Homo sapiens: one gene and its partners. The protein of the gene in region 3 purifies or fractionates together with the protein of the main gene of each other region. This does not show direct contact. Each region holds a gene or a part of one and is shown on either strand. Other genes may lie near its edges.

The links.
Region 1: the proteins of CCDC148 (region 3) and TEX9 purify together in Homo sapiens (affinity purification with mass spectrometry; 3 studies listed by BioGRID and IntAct, with this or other methods). This does not show direct contact.
Region 2: the proteins of CCDC148 (region 3) and LTF purify together in Homo sapiens (affinity purification with mass spectrometry; 3 studies listed by BioGRID and IntAct, with this or other methods). This does not show direct contact.

What each region holds. Positions count from the first base shown.
Region 1 is NC_000015.10:56,361,013-56,368,443, forward strand, and holds the start of TEX9 (testis-expressed protein 9), read left to right. Parts: upstream 1-4,413; 5' UTR 4,414-4,438; coding exon 4,439-4,465; intron 4,466-4,566; coding exon 4,567-4,658; exon of another isoform or gene 4,659-4,881; intron 4,882-6,995; exon of another isoform or gene 6,996-7,040; intron 7,041-7,431.
Region 2 is NC_000003.12:46,454,888-46,461,952, reverse strand, and holds part of LTF (lactotransferrin isoform 1 preproprotein), read left to right. Parts: intron 1-2,133; coding exon 2,134-2,297; intron 2,298-5,554; coding exon 5,555-5,663; intron 5,664-5,974; coding exon 5,975-6,157; intron 6,158-6,510; coding exon 6,511-6,658; intron 6,659-7,065. UniProt on the Homo sapiens protein: Transferrins are iron binding transport proteins which can bind two Fe(3+) ions in association with the binding of an anion, usually bicarbonate. Lactoferricin binds to the bacterial surface and is crucial for the bactericidal functions.
Region 3 is NC_000002.12:158,170,558-158,173,803, reverse strand, and holds the end of CCDC148 (coiled-coil domain-containing protein 148), read left to right. Parts: intron 1-1,544; coding exon 1,545-1,691; 3' UTR 1,692-2,731; downstream 2,732-3,246.

The DNA of each region.
Region 1 (7,431 bases), on a different chromosome or scaffold from region 3:
CGTCCTATTTCTAGGACCTGTGAGTATAATAAATGTTGTTTTCCTCTCATGGCCACACCTGACTGACCATCACAGAAAATAACACAGAACAGGTTACTTGGATCTTCTCTTTTTCTTGGTTAGCACAGCTATAAGTTTATTGATTTTAACTAGATTGTGGTTTCTGTGATTTTCTCTATTGTTTCCCTGTTTCAGTTCCATTGATTTATGTTCTAATGTTTATTGTTACTTTTCTTTTGCTTTAAGTTTAATATTTTTCCTTTAGCTGCCTTGAAGGTAGACATTCAGAGTTTAGATTTTTCTTCTTTTCTAATATATGCATTGAATGCTAAGCACTCCAAGCACTGCTTTCATAACATTCCACAGGTTTTGATAAGTTATATTTCAAATTTTATTTAGTTCAAAATGTTTTTTTAATTCCTCTAGATATTTACTTGATCCATGTATTATTTAGAAGTATGAATTTAATTTGCAAATATTTTGTGGGTGTCCAGCTGTTTTGTTATTGATTTTTAGTTTAGTTTTATTGTGCTCTGGGACCACAATAAAATAGTTTGTATAATTTCGGTTATAGGTTAAAGTGTGCCACCTCCCCCTCCCTACCATATATTGAAGTCCTAACCCCCAGTACCTGTGAATATGGTCTTTACAGATGTAATCACGTTAGGATGAGGTCATTAGGGTGGCCCACATCCGATATTACTGGAGTCTTCATGAAAAGCAGGAATGCCATGCAAAAGCAGAAACACACAGGGGAAATGCTACATGATTATAGAGGCAGAGAGAGGTTGTAGTGATGCAGCTGCAAGCCAAGGAATGCCAAGAAGTGACAGCCACCATAGAAGCTAGAAAGAGGCAAAGAAAGAGTCTCCCCTGCAGGTTTCAAGCAAAACATAGTCCTGGTGATACTTCTAGCCTGGTTTTGGACTTCTAGCCTCCAGACCCATGAGACAATAAATTTCTGTTGTTTTAAGCCACTCACTTGGTGGTGCTTTATTACAGCTACCCTAAACTATATAATTTATATTCTTTTAAATTTATTAAAGTGTGTTATGGCTAGAATGTGTTCTAGCTTGGTGAATGTTCCATGCGACCTTGAGAAAAATGTGTATTCTGCTGTTATTGAAATGAGTATTCTATAAATGTCAATTAGATCAAGCTAATTGATGGTGCTGTCCAGAGCAACTCTTGCTGATTTTCTGCCTGCTTAACCTGTTAATTACTGAAGGAGTAGTATTGAAGTCTCCAAATATAATGATGGATTTGTCTATTTCTCTTTGCAAGTCCTACCAGTTTTTGCCTCATGCATTTTGACACTACTGTTAGGAGGATTTACACCAGGATTGTTCTATCCCCTTGGAGAATTGACCTCTATCATTAATGCTCCTCTTTGTCCCTGATAATTTTCCTTGTTCTGATGTCATCTTTGTTTGAAATTAATATAGCGACTCCAGCTTCCTTTTGATTAGTGCTAGCATAGTGTTCCTTTCTTTATCCCTCGATGTTGTAAATAGTTTATTTTTAAGATGTTTTAACAGCTTGAGTGATTTATTTCACATATCTATATTTACCCATATAAAGTGTACTATTAATTGGCTTTTAGTGTATTCACAGAGTTGTACACCATCAACACAATTGATTTTAGAATATTTTCACTAGCGCCCCCCAAACCCTGCAACTCCTTAGCTAACCCTCCATCATCTGCCAAGCCTAGACAACTACTAATCTACTTCTGTCACTATGGATTTGCCTATTGCGGACATTTCCTACAATATGTAGTCATATTGAAATAGAATCCTATAGTATGTGATCTTTTGTGAAAGAAATTAGATAATACTTGGTCTTTTGTGAATGGCTTCTTTCACTTAGCATAATATATTCAAGGTTCATCCATATTGTGGTATACATGTACTTCATTCTTTCTCATTTCTGAATAATATTCCATTGTATGAATATACCACTTTTTATTTAATTACTAATCAGTTTATGACCATTATGGGTTTGTTTTGCATTTTGGCTGTTATGAATAATCCTGACATAAACATTTGTACATATACTTTTCATGTGGGTGTGTTTTCATTTTCCTTGGGTGTATACCTAGCAGTGGTTGCTGGATTGTTTGGTAACTCTGTGTATAAACTATTGAGGAATTGCTAGACCATTTTCCACAGTGGCTGCACAATTTTCCCATTCCCACTAACAGTTTATGAGGGTTCAAGTTTCTCTACATCCTCCTCTACACGTTATTGTCCATCCTTTTTTTTTTTTTTGAGATGGAGTCTCCCTCTGTCACCCAGGCTGGAGTGCAGTGGTGCTATCTCGGCTCACTGCAACTTCTATCTCCCAGCATTTCACCATGTTGGCCAGGCTGGTCTCAAACTCTTGACCTCTGGTGATCTGCCCGCCTCAGCATCCCAAAGTGCTGGGATTACAGGTGTGAGCCACCGCGCCTGGCTATCCATCCTTTTGATTATCGCCATTCTAGTGGGTGTCAAGTGGCATTTCATTTTGGTTTTAATTTTCATTTCCCTGAGGACAATACTGAGCATCTTTTCATGTGCTTTTTGCCTACTTGTATATGTTCTTTGGAGAAATCCCTATTTCTTTGCCCATTTTTAACTTGGGTTGTCTTTTTTAAAAATTTTTTTAAATTGTTTTTCTTTTTTTTTTTGAGACAGGGTCTCACTCTGTGACCCAGGCTAGAGTGCAGTGGTGTGACCATGGCTCTTTGCAGCCTTGATCTCCCTGGCTCAAGTGATCCTCCCACCTCAGTCTCCTAGTAGTTGGGACTACAGGCATGTACCACTGGACCCAGCTAATTTTTATTTATCTATTTCCTTTTTTTTTTTTTGTAGAGATGGAGTCTTGCTGTGTTGCCTTGGCTGGTCTGGAACTCCTGGGCTCAAGTGATCCTCCTGACTTAGCCTCCAAAGTGCTCATATTACAGGCATGAGCCACTGCACCTACCTATTTTTGAATTTTAATACTTCTTTATATAGTCCAGACACAAGTTATTTATCAGATATATAATTTGCAAGAATTTCCCCTCTTCCTGTGGTCTTGTTACTTTATTTATGGTATCTTTTGAAACTAAAGGTTTTTAGTTTTGATAATGTCTAGTTTATCTATTTTTTTTTCCTTTTTTTTGTTTTTTTCTTGAGATGGAATTTCGCTCTTGTTGACCAGGTTGGAGCGCAATGGTGCAATCTCAGCTCACCGCAACCTCTGCCTCCCAGGTTCAAGCGATTCTCCTGCTTCAGCCTCCCCAGTAGCTGGGATTACAGGCATGAGCCACCACACCCGGCTAATTTTTTTTTTTTAGGAGTGGCGGGGTTTCTCCATATTGGTCAGGCTGGTCTTGAACTCCCAACCTCAGGTGATCCACCCGCCTTGGCCTCCCAAAGTGCTTGGATTACAGGCATGAGCCTCTGTGCCCAGCCTCTTTTTTCTTTTCTTTTTTTTTTTTTTTGCTACTGCTTTTGGTGTCATATCTAAGAATCCATCAAGGATTCTCAGAATTGTAATTCAAGGTCATAAAGATTTACACCAACAGTTTCTTTGAAGAGCTTTAGAGTTTTAGCTCCTAAGTTTAGGTCTTTGATACATTTTAATTTTTGTATATGGTGTGAAGTTAAGGGTCTAATTGCATTTGGATATCCAGTTGTCTCCCCATCTGTTGAAGACAATTATTTTCCCATTGAATGGTCTTGCACCCTTTCTAAAGATCAGATGACCATACATCATATCACGGTTTATTTTTGGATGTCAATTTTATTCCAAAACAATTGAAATTGTTAACCGCTTACGTGTTTCAGGCATGATCCTAAGCACGAATTCATTTGCTTCTCATAATAACTGTGAAGTGGGCACTATTCTCACTTCCATTTGACAAATGAAGTGGCCGATATACAGAGTGATTTGCCCAAGGCCATATAACTGGTAAGTGGCAGTGCCAGGATAATAATTTAGGTTGACTAACTTGAGAGCCTGAGTCTTAGCCATGCATGCTGTAAACAAAAATTAGAAATCAAAACTTCTGAATTCCACTGAAGAGCTCACTTTAAGCAAACGGGGTGAAGGTCGGATTAGCCACTAACGGTTTGAAAAGCACAACAGGGAGGGATTGCCTCACCAGCTTGCTTTCTATAGAGTAGCGGCAAAGGACCTGCCTGTTTTGGCTGAAACTCTTTCAACCCCCACAAGTTGAGAATTTGCACTAACTAAGTCGAATTTGCAGTTAGGAAGCCTTCCTGGGTTCCTGGGACAGCGCCGAGTGCTGCGAGCAAAGGCCGAGCCCGCTGCCAGAGGCTCGCGCCGCTCGCAGCACAGAACCTGAGAGTGGGAAGGCGTAGGCGCCCGGGCGGGAGGCAACCGGGATGTGGAAACTCTCGCGGGAAGATGCGTCGTTGCCTCGGTAACCGCGTCGCAGTCGCCGAAGATGGCGGGGCGAAGTCTGTGTCTCACGGTCAGTTCAACTCCAGGCTCCTGGGGAGCGTCTGGGTTCCGGCGACTAGGACGCCTAACTTCCTTTAACTTCGGGTCTGAAAGTCTGTGGCTCTTTTACAGAGAAGCAGCGTTCCAGGGACTCCGTTCCCGCCACCCGTTCAGCAACCCTCTACACCTGGACCCGACCTCCTCGCCTTGGAGGAAGAATATAAGTAAGAAATTCGGCGGTTGAACTTTTCCTTCTTTCTTTCATCTGAATGAGGCTGCTTACAAGTACTTTTTTCTGGAGACTGGCTGGATCTTCGGGACCACTCACTCTGCAGCATTCCCTTCTCGTCATCTCGTTCACCTGCCGTTTATCCTTTCTTTGTCTTTGATCTGAGTAGTTCGCCTGCGTATTAGAAGATATTTGAAGTGGGCGAAAATTTAGCCCAAGTAAGCATGTTGTTTAATTTAAAACGTAGCCCAAGTAAACAGCAAGATACTGTTGGAAGTTATTTGGGTAGCAGGAATTGCCACGAATAGTTAGTTCACTTGATAGTTTAGGTTATTTCGCTTAATATCAAGTTCATAGAGTTTACCTTGTGTAAATTTCCTTTAGGTTGGTTTCTAAATTGAAAGGATGCTTCCCACTGCAATCAGAATTACCATTCTCGTTCAAATATTCCTTTTCTTATCTGTTCTCAGTGTAATTACAACTATCCTGACAACGGTGCTTTCATTCTTGGCCCATTCTACTCCTCATCCCCAAGTTTTCACACAGCAGCCAGTGTAATCTTTTAATTTGATCTACCATGCCTTTGCTTAAAATTCTACAGTAGTTTCCTGTTGCATTTCAAAAGCTCTGATCGATGTGGCTCCTCCTGCCTCCTCTATTTGATCTTATTCCCTCTTCCCCTTTTCCCCCTAAAACTCTCCAGCTTCACTGGCCTTTTAGTTCCAAAAACTCTTCCAGGTTTTCTTTCTATCTCAGGAAAGAGACAGTCACACACGCCTTCAACCTGTAATGTGAGTGGCCTTCCTTGACCATGCTAAGTAGGCTCCCTTGTTGGTCTTTTTCATTGTCTCAGTGATTTTTCTTTCTAATTAGCATAATTTGTTACAATAAATTCATTTGTGAATTTCCTTTTTGTCTGTCTCCACTGGACTGTAAGTTCCAAGGGCAGAGGCGATGTCTGTTTTATTTGCCATCATACATACCCTTATAAAAAAGTGCCTTTTAACAACTCCCTTCCGTTTTAATATAAAATAACTAGATTAAAATTTGGAAATAGTTGGCAGTTTGTATCAGAGGGTTAAACTAGAGTTATCGTATGATCTACATATGATCTATAAGCATATTTGAAATTAAAACTGAAAGGTACTGTGTTTAGGTGAACTATACACAGACCAATTTACCACAGCAAGTAGGAAGATAATCATATCTTCTTCTCTCTGATGAAATGGGCCGATTATCCCAGTTCAAAAGTGTACTTAAGCAAATTAATCTGTTTTCTATATATAGTTCTTTATCAGCTATGCCTCAATCAAAACGGTTATTTTCATTATCATTAACCATATAGTATTAAATACCTGGATTAGGTTTATTTGTTCAGTTATTTGAGAGTGTATTTTGCACCTGGTTCTGGTGCATCCTTAGGGATACAGTCCTGCTTAAAATGAGAAATATACAGGGACTATTATTGTATTCTAGCACGAGTTACTTTATAAAACGAGATAGCTAAACAGTATTATATGGTGGCCAGTTGTTACTTGTTCTGTTATCTGTACTCTGAGTTGTGCACATCTGAAGCATATGAACAGAGTAACTCCCTACACTACCTGAATCTTCTAGAATACTTCTGTGTCATGTAGAAGAGTAAAATGTCTGGCCATCCCTGTAAGCAAGAATATGAAATTATAACAGTATGGTATCTGTTTTGCCACCTGTTGTCTTGGCATTGATCATTAGAATGCTACTTCCCAGGGACCTCAATCCAAAACCTTTTGCAGTTCTGCTTCTGTTGGAGGAAATAATCACTGTCCGAAAGGATAGACTAAGGAAGATGCTAATCGCTCAAGTGGATAGATTTTTCAAGCTTCATTCCTGTATTATAATACCAGATAGCTAAACAATAAGATAACATAATAACTGGTAGGGCAAGCCCCCTCATAAATCGCAATTACATTGGATTTACAGATTAATTTGTAGAGAACTGACTTATTTATGCTATTGAATTTTCCACGAATATGATACTTCTCCATTTATGGGTTTTTACCTTTAATAGTGTTTTATCATTTTACTACATAAAATTCTTGCGTATATAATTTGCTTCAAGGTACTGAATAGTTGCTATATAATAAGTGGAATTTTTTCTATTTTCTAATTGGTTATAAATGTAGAATTTTTAGATGTTGATGCTACATCTGCGTTTATATACACACAGATCTTCAGTCCTGCTGAACTCTCTTATTCATTCTGTGAATTCCCTTGGATTTTTGATGAAGACAATTATATGCAAATTTTGATCATTTTGTCCCTTGATAATTCTCCTACATTCTCTCTTTTTCTCTGTTTAGGACTTCCCGTGTGATATGGAATAGAAAAAGTGATGGTGAGCTTCCTTGTTTATGATTTTGAGAAGCCCACTTTTAATAATCACTACATTTGAGGTTTGCTCTAGGGTTTTGGTAGATTCTTTTTATTATGTTTAAAATTCTTCCCCTTAATTCCTAATTTGAATGAGTGTTAAATGTATCAAAACTTATTTTTTCCCTAATTAATTCAGCTGTTGGTATGTTCTTTTTCCCTCCTTTAATGTTTTAACATACTGAACTACAAAGGCAGGTTTCTTGTTTTCCTTTAAAGACTGCTAGATTTGATTGCTATAATTTTATGTAGGTTTTTTGCATCTATGAACAAAAGTGAAATGGGTGTTGTAGTTTTTCTCTACTTCTTTTCCTTTCTGTTTTTGATATCAGTATCATTCTGTCTGTATGAAAGAA
Region 2 (7,065 bases), on a different chromosome or scaffold from region 3:
GCTCTCGCCATAAGGGGATGGCTCAGAAACAGGAGACAGCAGAGGCTGAACATTCTACCCCATAGCACATCCAAAGGGCAGAGGGCTTTTACAACTGTGTGTTTATTTTGTTTTTTTGTTTGTTTGTTTTTTGTTTTAGTTTTTGGTAACAGCTTTACTGAGGTACATTTTCCATATCATAAAAAATCACCTATTTGCGTACAATTCAATGAGTTTCAGTAACCTTACCGAGTGTGCAACTATCACCATAAATCTGTTTTAGAACACTTTTATCCCCCCCAGTAAAGGTCCCTCATGCCTGTTTATAGTTAATCCTCATTTCTACCCCAGCATCAGACAACCACTAATCTATTTTCTTGTCTCCATAAATTTGCCTTTTCTGGACATTTCATTCAAATGGAATCATACAGCATGTGGTCTCTTGTGTCTGGCTTCCTTCACTGAGCATAACTGAGGCTCGTTCATGTTGTGGGGCATGCCAGTAGTTCTTTTCACTGCTGAGTAATATTCCATTGAATGGATGTACATTCACCAGTTATTGGACATTTAGGTTGTTTCCAGTTTTCTACTATTCTAAATAACACTGCTATGAATATTCATGCACAAGCATTTATGTATGATAGGTTCTTATAATATTTCTTCTGGCTATATGCCTAGAAGTGCAATTGTTGGGTCCTATTGGAACTCTGTGCTTCACATTTTGAGAAGCTGCCAACCTGTTTTACAAAGTGGCTGGTCATTTTACATTCTCAGCAATGTATGAGGGTTTCCACTTCTCCACATCCTCATCGATATGTGTCATTGTCTGTTTTAGCTATTATAACCTGTTCAGTGGCTGTGAAATGATATTTCGTTGCATTTTCAATTTGCATTTTTGACTAATGATATTGAGCACTTTTCATGTGCTTATTGTCCATTCATATATCTTCTTTGGTAAAATGTCTGTTCTTATCATTTACCCGTCATGTACTAAATCCTTTTTGATGTTATACTATCTAGCATTATGTTCTTAATTTCATTTTTAGATTGTTCTGTGCTGTATGCAAAAATATGATCAATTTTTGTATATTGATCTTGTATCCTGTGGCCTGGCTGTACTTGTTTATTAATTCTAATAGTACTTTGTAGATTCTTCAGTATTTTCTACATAGAAGATCATGTTATCTGAAAGTAAAGTCAGTTTTACTTCTTTCTTTCCAATATGGGTGTCTCATTTCTTTTCTTGCCTTATTGCTGTGACTAGAATCTCTAGTACTGTTGAATAGAAGAGTTGAGTGTGGACACTCTCTCATCATTCCTGATCTTAGGTGGAAAGCAGTCAGTCTTTCACCATTTTAGTATGATGTTCATTGCAGGTTTTTTGTGGATGCCTTTTATCAGGCAACCAGGTGAGTAAATTCAATGCATCTTCCTCCCTAATTACATGGATTTGAGCAACAAAAGCAGGCTCAAAAGAAGAACCAGTATTTGAGCAAAAAAAGCAGGCTCAACAGGAGCACCAGTCTTTCTGTGCAGAGTGAATGGTGGTAGCTCAGGCACACCAACCAACTGATTTGTCCCCATTGACACTGACTTACCATTTACCTCAGCTACCAACCGACTCAGGTATATTTTCCCCTGTTCTCTTGGCATTCCCTGGGAAGAGATTTATGCACAAAACAATCTAGAGAGACGTGGATTCTCAGCTGGGCTCTGCACTGCTGAGTGGCGAGTCACTCAGCCTCCTTAGGAGCCAATTTCCACATCAGTAAAACAGGAGCAATGACTCCTTTCCTGCCTACCTTCCAGGTTCAAAGTGGGCAAAGCTGGTAGAAGAATTCCATAACTGATCTGGGGGATCACCATCATTTTTTAAGTGGTAGGAAACATGTCAAAGTCATAGGAATGAAAATAATCTAGAGGGACTTTCTCCTTTAATTTATTGAGAACCACAGACCTCTAGCCAATGCAGAGATCCTATTAGTCCAGCAAGATGCCTCCACTTGTGGAGAATGGCTGGACATAGCCATGAAATGGAGAGGGAAGGAGGGCAGCCGAGAGAGAGGGAGGAGTCTGGAAAACTCCATCAGAGGGTGCGGTGGTCACGCCCTCAGTCAGTGGTTGAATCCTTACTCCTTGGCCCCTCTCTCCCAGGACTGTGTCTGGCTGGCCGTAGGAGGAGTGTTCAGTGGTGCGCCGTATCCCAACCCGAGGCCACAAAATGCTTCCAATGGCAAAGGAATATGAGAAAAGTGCGTGGCCCTCCTGTCAGCTGCATAAAGAGAGACTCCCCCATCCAGTGTATCCAGGCCATTGCGGTGAGTCAATGCCGGGTGTTGGTTGGGACCAAGCTGAATGGAAGGGAGAGAGAAATGGAAAAAGATAGAACACGAGCTCTCCTTACTTCCTCTGCTTCACCTGTTGGGCAACGAAGTGGGGAGCCGTCCTCTCTCACAGGGAACTGTGCTATTTTCAGAGCAGAAAGGAAGGAGCTTAAGTCAAGAGACCATGTGTGAGGAACCTGGAGCCTCCACATAAACTATAATAACAACTGTTATTCATTAATAACAACTGTTCCAAAATGAAATGTAATCAGTTGTATTTGATGAATACATAGGATCAGCAAAAAGCAAAGTTACTCAGAGAGGGAAATCCTCCAAAAGAGTCATGACCTCTAAACCCTGTGAGAAAGAAGCTTGTCCTGGTCACCGTTGCCACATCACATGGCTGGGGCAGGGCCTGCCAGGGTGCTGGGTGTTAGAAAGACTTTTGTCCAAGACACTTTCAGAGAGAGAGAAAAGGGTATCATGACTTGTATATGATTTCTGATTCCTTTTATTTTTTGAGATGTAAGATCTACTGAAATGATTTTTACTCATTCATTCAACAAATATATTCTGTGTACCTGCCATGTGCCATAATCATGTGTACTCAACTCCAGCAGAGTGAATAATTTGCATAAAAGTTCCCGAGGCAACTTCATAGGATTATCTTATAAATACAATGGAGTTATTAGAATAGCACTTAGGGAAAAATCTAGTTTAATCAATGTTTTAGGCTATTATTTTACAACTATTACCTGCATACAAACAGTACCAGTGGCTGGGCGCGGTGGCTCACGCCCGTAATTTCAGCACTTTGGAGGCCGAGGTGGGAGGATCACCTGAGGTCAGTAGTTCAAAACCAGGATGGCCAACATGGTGAAACCCTGCCTCTACTAAAAATACAAAAATTAGCTGGGTGTGGTGGCACATGCCTGTATTCCCAGCTACTTACAAGGCTGAGGCAGGAGAATCACTTGAACCCGGGAGGGGGAGGTTGCAGTGAGCCAAGATCATGCTATTGCACTCCAGCCTGGGCGACAAGAGCGAGACTCCATCTCAAAAAACAAAAAACAAAAACAAAAAACCAGCACCAGCATCTCTTGCTTGTTTAAAATGCAGATTCCTAGGCTCTATTCTAACCTACTCAATCTGAATATATGTGAAAGAAGCCACAAAATCTGCCTTTTAAAATAAGATCCTGTCCAAGGCCATACCACGCTGAACGCGTCTGATCTCGTCTGATCTCGGAAAATAAGATCCCTGTTTGAAATCAGTACTACATACCATTCATTCAAATAAAGTTGAGATAGATTAAATGGTTAAAAATAAAACTTGTATTATTGAAAAACTAGGGGGCAGGTTAACTAGCAGAACTGTAGAGGAAATAGAAATCTCTTAAATGATGATCTAAATCACGAAACAAACAGATATTCTAAAATACAGAAAATGTAATTCATAGCCCATAGAAAATATTTAAATAAAAAAATTAGAAAGGACTGGAATGAATGAATATGCGCCAGCTCTGACACATGATTACTATTTACACTCTATAAAAGAATAACTCAAGGCCGGGCGTGGTGGCTCACATCTGTAATCCCAGCACTTTGGGAGGTCAAGGCAGGTGGATCACGAGGTCAGGAGATCAAGACCATCCTGGCTAAGATGGTGAAACCCCATCTCTACTAAACATACAAAAAAAAAAAAATTAGCCAGGCATGGTGGCACACGCCTGTAGTCCCAGCTACTCAGGAGGCTGAGGCAAGAGAATCGCTTTAACCCGGGAGGTGGAGGTTGCAGTGAGCTGAGATGGTACCACTGCACTCCAGCCTGGGTGACTCCGCTCGAAAAAATAAATAAATAAAAGAATAACCCAAATTGGAAAAAATGTAGAATCATAGAAGAAAAATGATATGAACAGAGTTACCAGTAAGAGGGAATTCATAATTAATAAAAAATACTTGTGAGATGTTCCCCTTACTAATCAGACCTGAGCGATTTGTTAGTACTCACATTTTCTATAGTAATAACAGCTAATAGAATGATAGCCTGCCCTGCTGGTGATTCAAGAGTGAAGCTGGTCCTCACGGTCAGCGCCATTCTGAATTGGTATTATAAGTCTTCTGGAAGCAGAATGGCAACGGCAGCCCGGGTCACAGGGGGAAACGTGCTCCTCATCTGGGGGATTCCACCCTCAGCTGCCTACCCAAGGACACAAGTGGTCACAAGGAAAAACACTGAGGACAAAGATATTCATGAAAATACAGTCTTCACAGGAAACAGTTAGAAATAAACTTAAATGCTAAACATTGGGGGAAATTATTCAATACACGATAGAACACCCACATTATGAGAAAACATTATGCTGTCTACAAAATCAGTAAAGGCTCTGCAGAAGTTAGAAAATGTATCCAGTTTTAGAGGAATAAGCAGTCCACAAAATATGATGTATCCCAGGGGTCCCCACCACCTGGCCACGGACTGGTACCGGTTGATGGCCTGTTAGGAACTAGACCTCAGACCAGGAGGTGAGCAGAGGGCCAGTGAGCATGACTGCCTGAGCTCCACCTCCTGTCAGATCAGCGGCGGCATTAGATTCTCATAGGAGTGTGAACCCTAGTGTGAACTGTGCATGCGAGGGATCTAGGTTGCACTCCCTATGAGAATCCAATGCCTGATGATCAGAGGTGGAACGGTTTCATCCCAAAACCATTCCCCATCTGTCTGTGGAAAAATTACATTCCCTGAAACTGGTCCTTGGTGGCAAAAAAGTTGGGGACCACTAAACTATCCCACATTGCAAACCAAAGAAATATGTAATCATGTGGGAAGCAATGTGCTGAAGCGGAGGAACATGGTTTCTTATGAAAATTTTAGGATAGCTTAATAACTATATTTTCTATCCAATAAAACAGAACTTAAAAGAAATGAATATAGAGCAAAAATAGAAAGTATCTAGAACAAACGACTTCAAATATAGATGACTGTGAGGGGTGTGATCGGGAGAGTGACACAGGCAGGCAGAGGAGAAAGAGGGCAGGCGCCAGTCTCAGGACTTAGAGGGCTGGTGCTCACTGTCCCAAAACAGGGGTCCTTGGCTCTCACCATCTCTCATAGGAAGTGAGGGGACAGGATGGAAAGCGGACCCCTTTGACGACCCTTCCAGCCATGGAGACTTTTTGAGGTCCTGAAGTCCCACTTGCTGGGTTTGGGTGAGTTTTCTGCTGAAGCCAGTCTGGCCTCTTTACTTTCAGGAAAACAGGGCCGATGCTGTGACCCTTGATGGTGGTTTCATATACGAGGCAGGCCTGGCCCCCTACAAACTGCGACCTGTAGCGGCGGAAGTCTACGGGACCGAAAGACGTGAGTTCTGCCTGGGGACCCAGAGGCCACGGTGGCCTCAGCCTGTGCCCTGAGCTGTGTGGATTAAGACTGGGGGAACATGTGGAGGTGGAGTCTGGGTCACATCACACATGTAGGGAATGGAGTCGCTGGGCTCTGGGCCAGATGAAGGCCGTTCCTCCTGACGCTGACCCACGAGAGGAGGACACACGTGAGCTGTGAGGAAACTGCAGCACAGCATTCCCCCTTCCCACCGGAGACTTTTCAGGATGGGTTGTTTTTGTCCCTCTTGTCCAGGCTAAGAACTTTCAATTCTGTCTGCCCCTTTGCAGAGCCACGAACTCACTATTATGCCGTGGCTGTGGTGAAGAAGGGCGGCAGCTTTCAGCTGAACGAACTGCAAGGTCTGAAGTCCTGCCACACAGGCCTTCGCAGGACCGCTGGATGGAATGTCCCTATAGGGACACTTCGTCCATTCTTGAATTGGACGGGTCCACCTGAGCCCATTGAGGCAGGTAAGATGGCTGGGGGATAGTGAGTGGCCTCAGGCAGGGGGCTCTATTCCAGTTGTAAGCACAGGCCACACAGATCATGCAGGTGAAAGTGTGGGATGAATCAAGGTGGGGGTGAGGCTGGCCAGCTTGTAACATCCTGCTGGCAGGATCCGTTACCCTAGCAGCCCTTGGGAGGCACAGCTGAGTCTGCTCTCGGCAGAGGTGCATGTCTCGAGCTCCCAGCCCCATGACAGAGTCTCTCCTGCAGGGGTGGAGGAAGGGGCCTTGCCCACGGAGACCTCAGGATGGGAGGTGTAACCTGCTGTGACCAGGGCTGGCTCACACTCTGTGGTCCACTTCTCTGTGTTTAACAGCTGTGGCCAGGTTCTTCTCAGCCAGCTGTGTTCCCGGTGCAGATAAAGGACAGTTCCCCAACCTGTGTCGCCTGTGTGCGGGGACAGGGGAAAACAAATGTGCCTTCTCCTCCCAGGAACCGTACTTCAGCTACTCTGGTGCCTTCAAGTGAGTGACCCTGTCCCCTTCTCGTCAGTGGCCAAGTGTCCCTTGGCCTCAGGCCGGGAGGCCTTTTCTCTGGCCCCACATAGAGCCCAGCCTGCTCTTGGGGACGAGAGGAGGTCTGTTCTCCTACTGCTGTGTGTCCAAAGAGAGTGCAGGCCTGCCCAGTGTGTGTTCCCCTCCAGCCTTCCGGGCCCAACTGTGCCCCCAACTTCTCACCAGCCCCACGGGCAGTCACTGTGGCTGTGGGCCCTCCTGTTACCTCAGAGAGCCCTGAATCCAACTTGGCTGCCCTGTTGTCCTGGGTTCCTCATACTAATTTCTGCCGCCTGCCTAACCACAGCAGGACTGAAGGCATCTTGTCATGAGATGTCCAGTCCTGGCTCCTGGTTGGGCAGGACCGCTGCAGTGTC
Region 3 (3,246 bases):
ACATGAATCACTGGAGCACATGAGAGCAGACCAGGGAGAAGACATTGAGACAGAAGAGGAAAAACCTGGGTCTTAGGCTCATATTTATTGCTTCTCAGACACAAATCTCTGTATTATTCTTGACTTCATACTCATCGTTGCCCCAAGCCCTGTATCTGATCAACTGCCAAGTGCTATTGATTCTTGTTTTCATAGTGTTTCTGACAATTATCTCTTCCTTGCTACCAGCCAAGTTCAGACATTTATTACTTTATGTCTAGACAATTGTAGTAAATTCCTAACCACTCTCTCGGCCTCCATTTCTTCTTTCCCTGCCACCTTAATTTATTCTGAACTTACAATCAGACCCATCTTCCTATGCAACTACAATGATTATATTATTTTTATGCAAAAACTAGAAACAAACATACCCTAGTAGCTCCTTAGACTCGGCATGGCCATGCAAGCCTTTTAAGTTCAAGTCCTAGTCTGAGAAGCATCTGTTTCCAGTGTTCCTCAATGGTAACCAGTACTCTGCTCAAACCACCCTTATCCCAAGTTGGCCTATTTCACCTCTGAGTTTGTAGGTGTCTTCCTTTCTCATTAGGTCTCTCTTCCTCCCCAGTCTGCTTTATAGACTAAGTTGGACTTTAAGGGTAGTTCAATTGCTCATCTTCACCTGAGACCATCCGCATGCCGCCACCACCAGGAGATGCACCCCCATGTTTTACTACTTTTAGGGCATCTGCCACATGTTGCCATAATCTGTAGTTATCTGTGTACATTTTTATTGCCCCAGTTCGCCTAAGAGCTCCTGGAGGGGCTGCTTTTACTAGCTTATTATCACATCCTCTAGGGGGACTTCAAATCCATGTAAAATGCCTCATTAGGTAAAATCCATATGTGGCCACCTTCTTATCATTTCAAACAGTCTCTGTTGACATTTAATATTCATAGGAGGAGGGGAAGAGGAATAAGATCCAATCAGCTATAAATGAAAACAGAAGTTGAACTACTCATATGTCTACTTCCACTTAGAATCAGATCGATGGAGGCATTTTCTACTTCTGTTTGAAATAGAAATCCAGCCTTGGAAGAAAAGTTCTATTGATTTTGTTTTTCAAGTGGTGGCCATGTGTTTAAACTTAATTTACATATTGCCAGATGATGGAGAAATTAAGATGCTTTTTTTGTGGCTTAGATTTATTTTAATCAATGATTATCTGTATTTTATAATTCCAGCCAGCAATAAGTGATAAATCAATAGTAGCACTGAAAGTAAGCTTCTTTTACTTCATCTTTTAATAATTTTAACGCATTATATTTTGACTAATCTAGTACACTATGTTCTATATACCCTACATGGGAAACCACTGATGTACTGAAAAGTGATAATGTCAAAAAGGTTTAGATGTTTCCAAAATATAGTCACTGTATTCACAGTTTACTGTCACCTAGTCATCTGTCCAGTAAAAACAAATTAGTTTGGGAAAACATGGAACTAAATGTTAAAAGTTATTTTAGTTCAATGAATTGTTATTTAAATTGTATTTTTATTTCTACAGATAATTTCTGACCCTAGACTTCGCTTCGAGTTAGCACTTCGAGAAGCTGGACTTCATAGAACACTTTATGCTAAAGAGATATTACCAAAAATTAGTCCTCAAAAACCTCCAAGAAAGGACATGGAGTCTACTGTATTTAAAATATAGAGCTCATCCTCAAATTCTATATGTAAAGAGCATTTTTCTTTGAAAACATGTATATGGATAATAATAATTACTACTTTCTAAAATGTTTGAAATATCAGACATAGAAATCATAGCATCTATTAAAACAACTTTGCCTTTCTTTTGTGATTCTTAGAATTTTATGCACTATATTTCCTGTATCTTTAAGTTATATTTAATAGTACTAAATTCCCCCAAATTATGGAACTTAATTATGGCACATATAGTACTTATACTATAATTTAGTAAACTACATGTTGGAGGTTATGTTATCCTATAAAAAGAGCTCAAAATAACTTTGTGAGAATTATAAATTATGTAGCTGCTACCTGCTAATGTTCATTTCTGCTTGTTATTTCAGAATTTGACTTTTTAATTATGGAAGCTTCATTATCATTAATACTTCTATTATTTCTTGATTATTATAAGAGGAGACTCAACCTTTCTCTAAATTTAGAAACCAATTTGGTACACCATGTTTACTGCAAACCAATCATCCAAACAATTTCATTTTGCAAATTAGCCCTTAAGAATAAATTAGAAATTAGAAATAGCATTTCAAGCATGGGAATATCTGTTTTGGTTTGGAAATATATATATTTGTGTGATTGTTTAGAAGAAATATTTAAAATTTCATAATATTTGGAATGCTGTCAAAAATTCCAAATTATCTATTAAATATTTAGATGATTTTATAGAAAAGGAGCATTTAAAATAAAACTCAAACATAAATATTTGACTATTTCTAAAAAATAATTTTTCAAGCAGAATAACAAGTTAGTGTTGTTGAAAGTTGCCATTGTTACAGTTAAGATTACCCCACTCCTTTTTCTGTCTATTGCAGCTCCCTGACATTTCCCACCTACCTCCCAGGGGTTGCAGCCTCTGTGCAATTACTGGAATAATGTAAAAAAAAAAAAGCCCAATCCAACTAGTGGAATCTTTGACTTTATGATTGTCCCCAACATCATGGAAATAAAAAATACAAGTACAGTCCCGTTAGAATAAATCTTCACAAAAGATTCTATGGGCAATATCTTTATCTGCATTCCAAAATTCATTCTAACACCCTTTTTGTTGCCTCGTCATAACATCTCATAAAAAGAGAGGAAGGAGTGTTTAACAAGAGCTAGAGAGTAGTGAGCATTAGTGTTTATCCTTACAGTATCTCCCAGGGTTACAGTTTTCCTTTATGGGTCCTCAGTTTGCTTGATGTGACGCCTCAGACATAGACCCAAGAAAGCCCTGCCATGTCAGAGCATACCCTCTCTAAACAGCATGACACCAATATTCCTCAGAGTCCACAGATCCTTTCCAACATCAACATCCACACTGATGTCCAGAGGATCACACTCAAATTCCAGCTGAATAGTATCCCCTTTACGTTTTCCCAACAGTCAGACTAGTAGCTGGTGATAGTACTGTGAGGGATAGCACCACCATTTTGAGAACAATCAACTGACACGTGGTGGTTCCTTGTAGACTCTGGGTATTAGACCTTTGTCAGATGGATAGATTGCAAAAAATTTCTCCCATT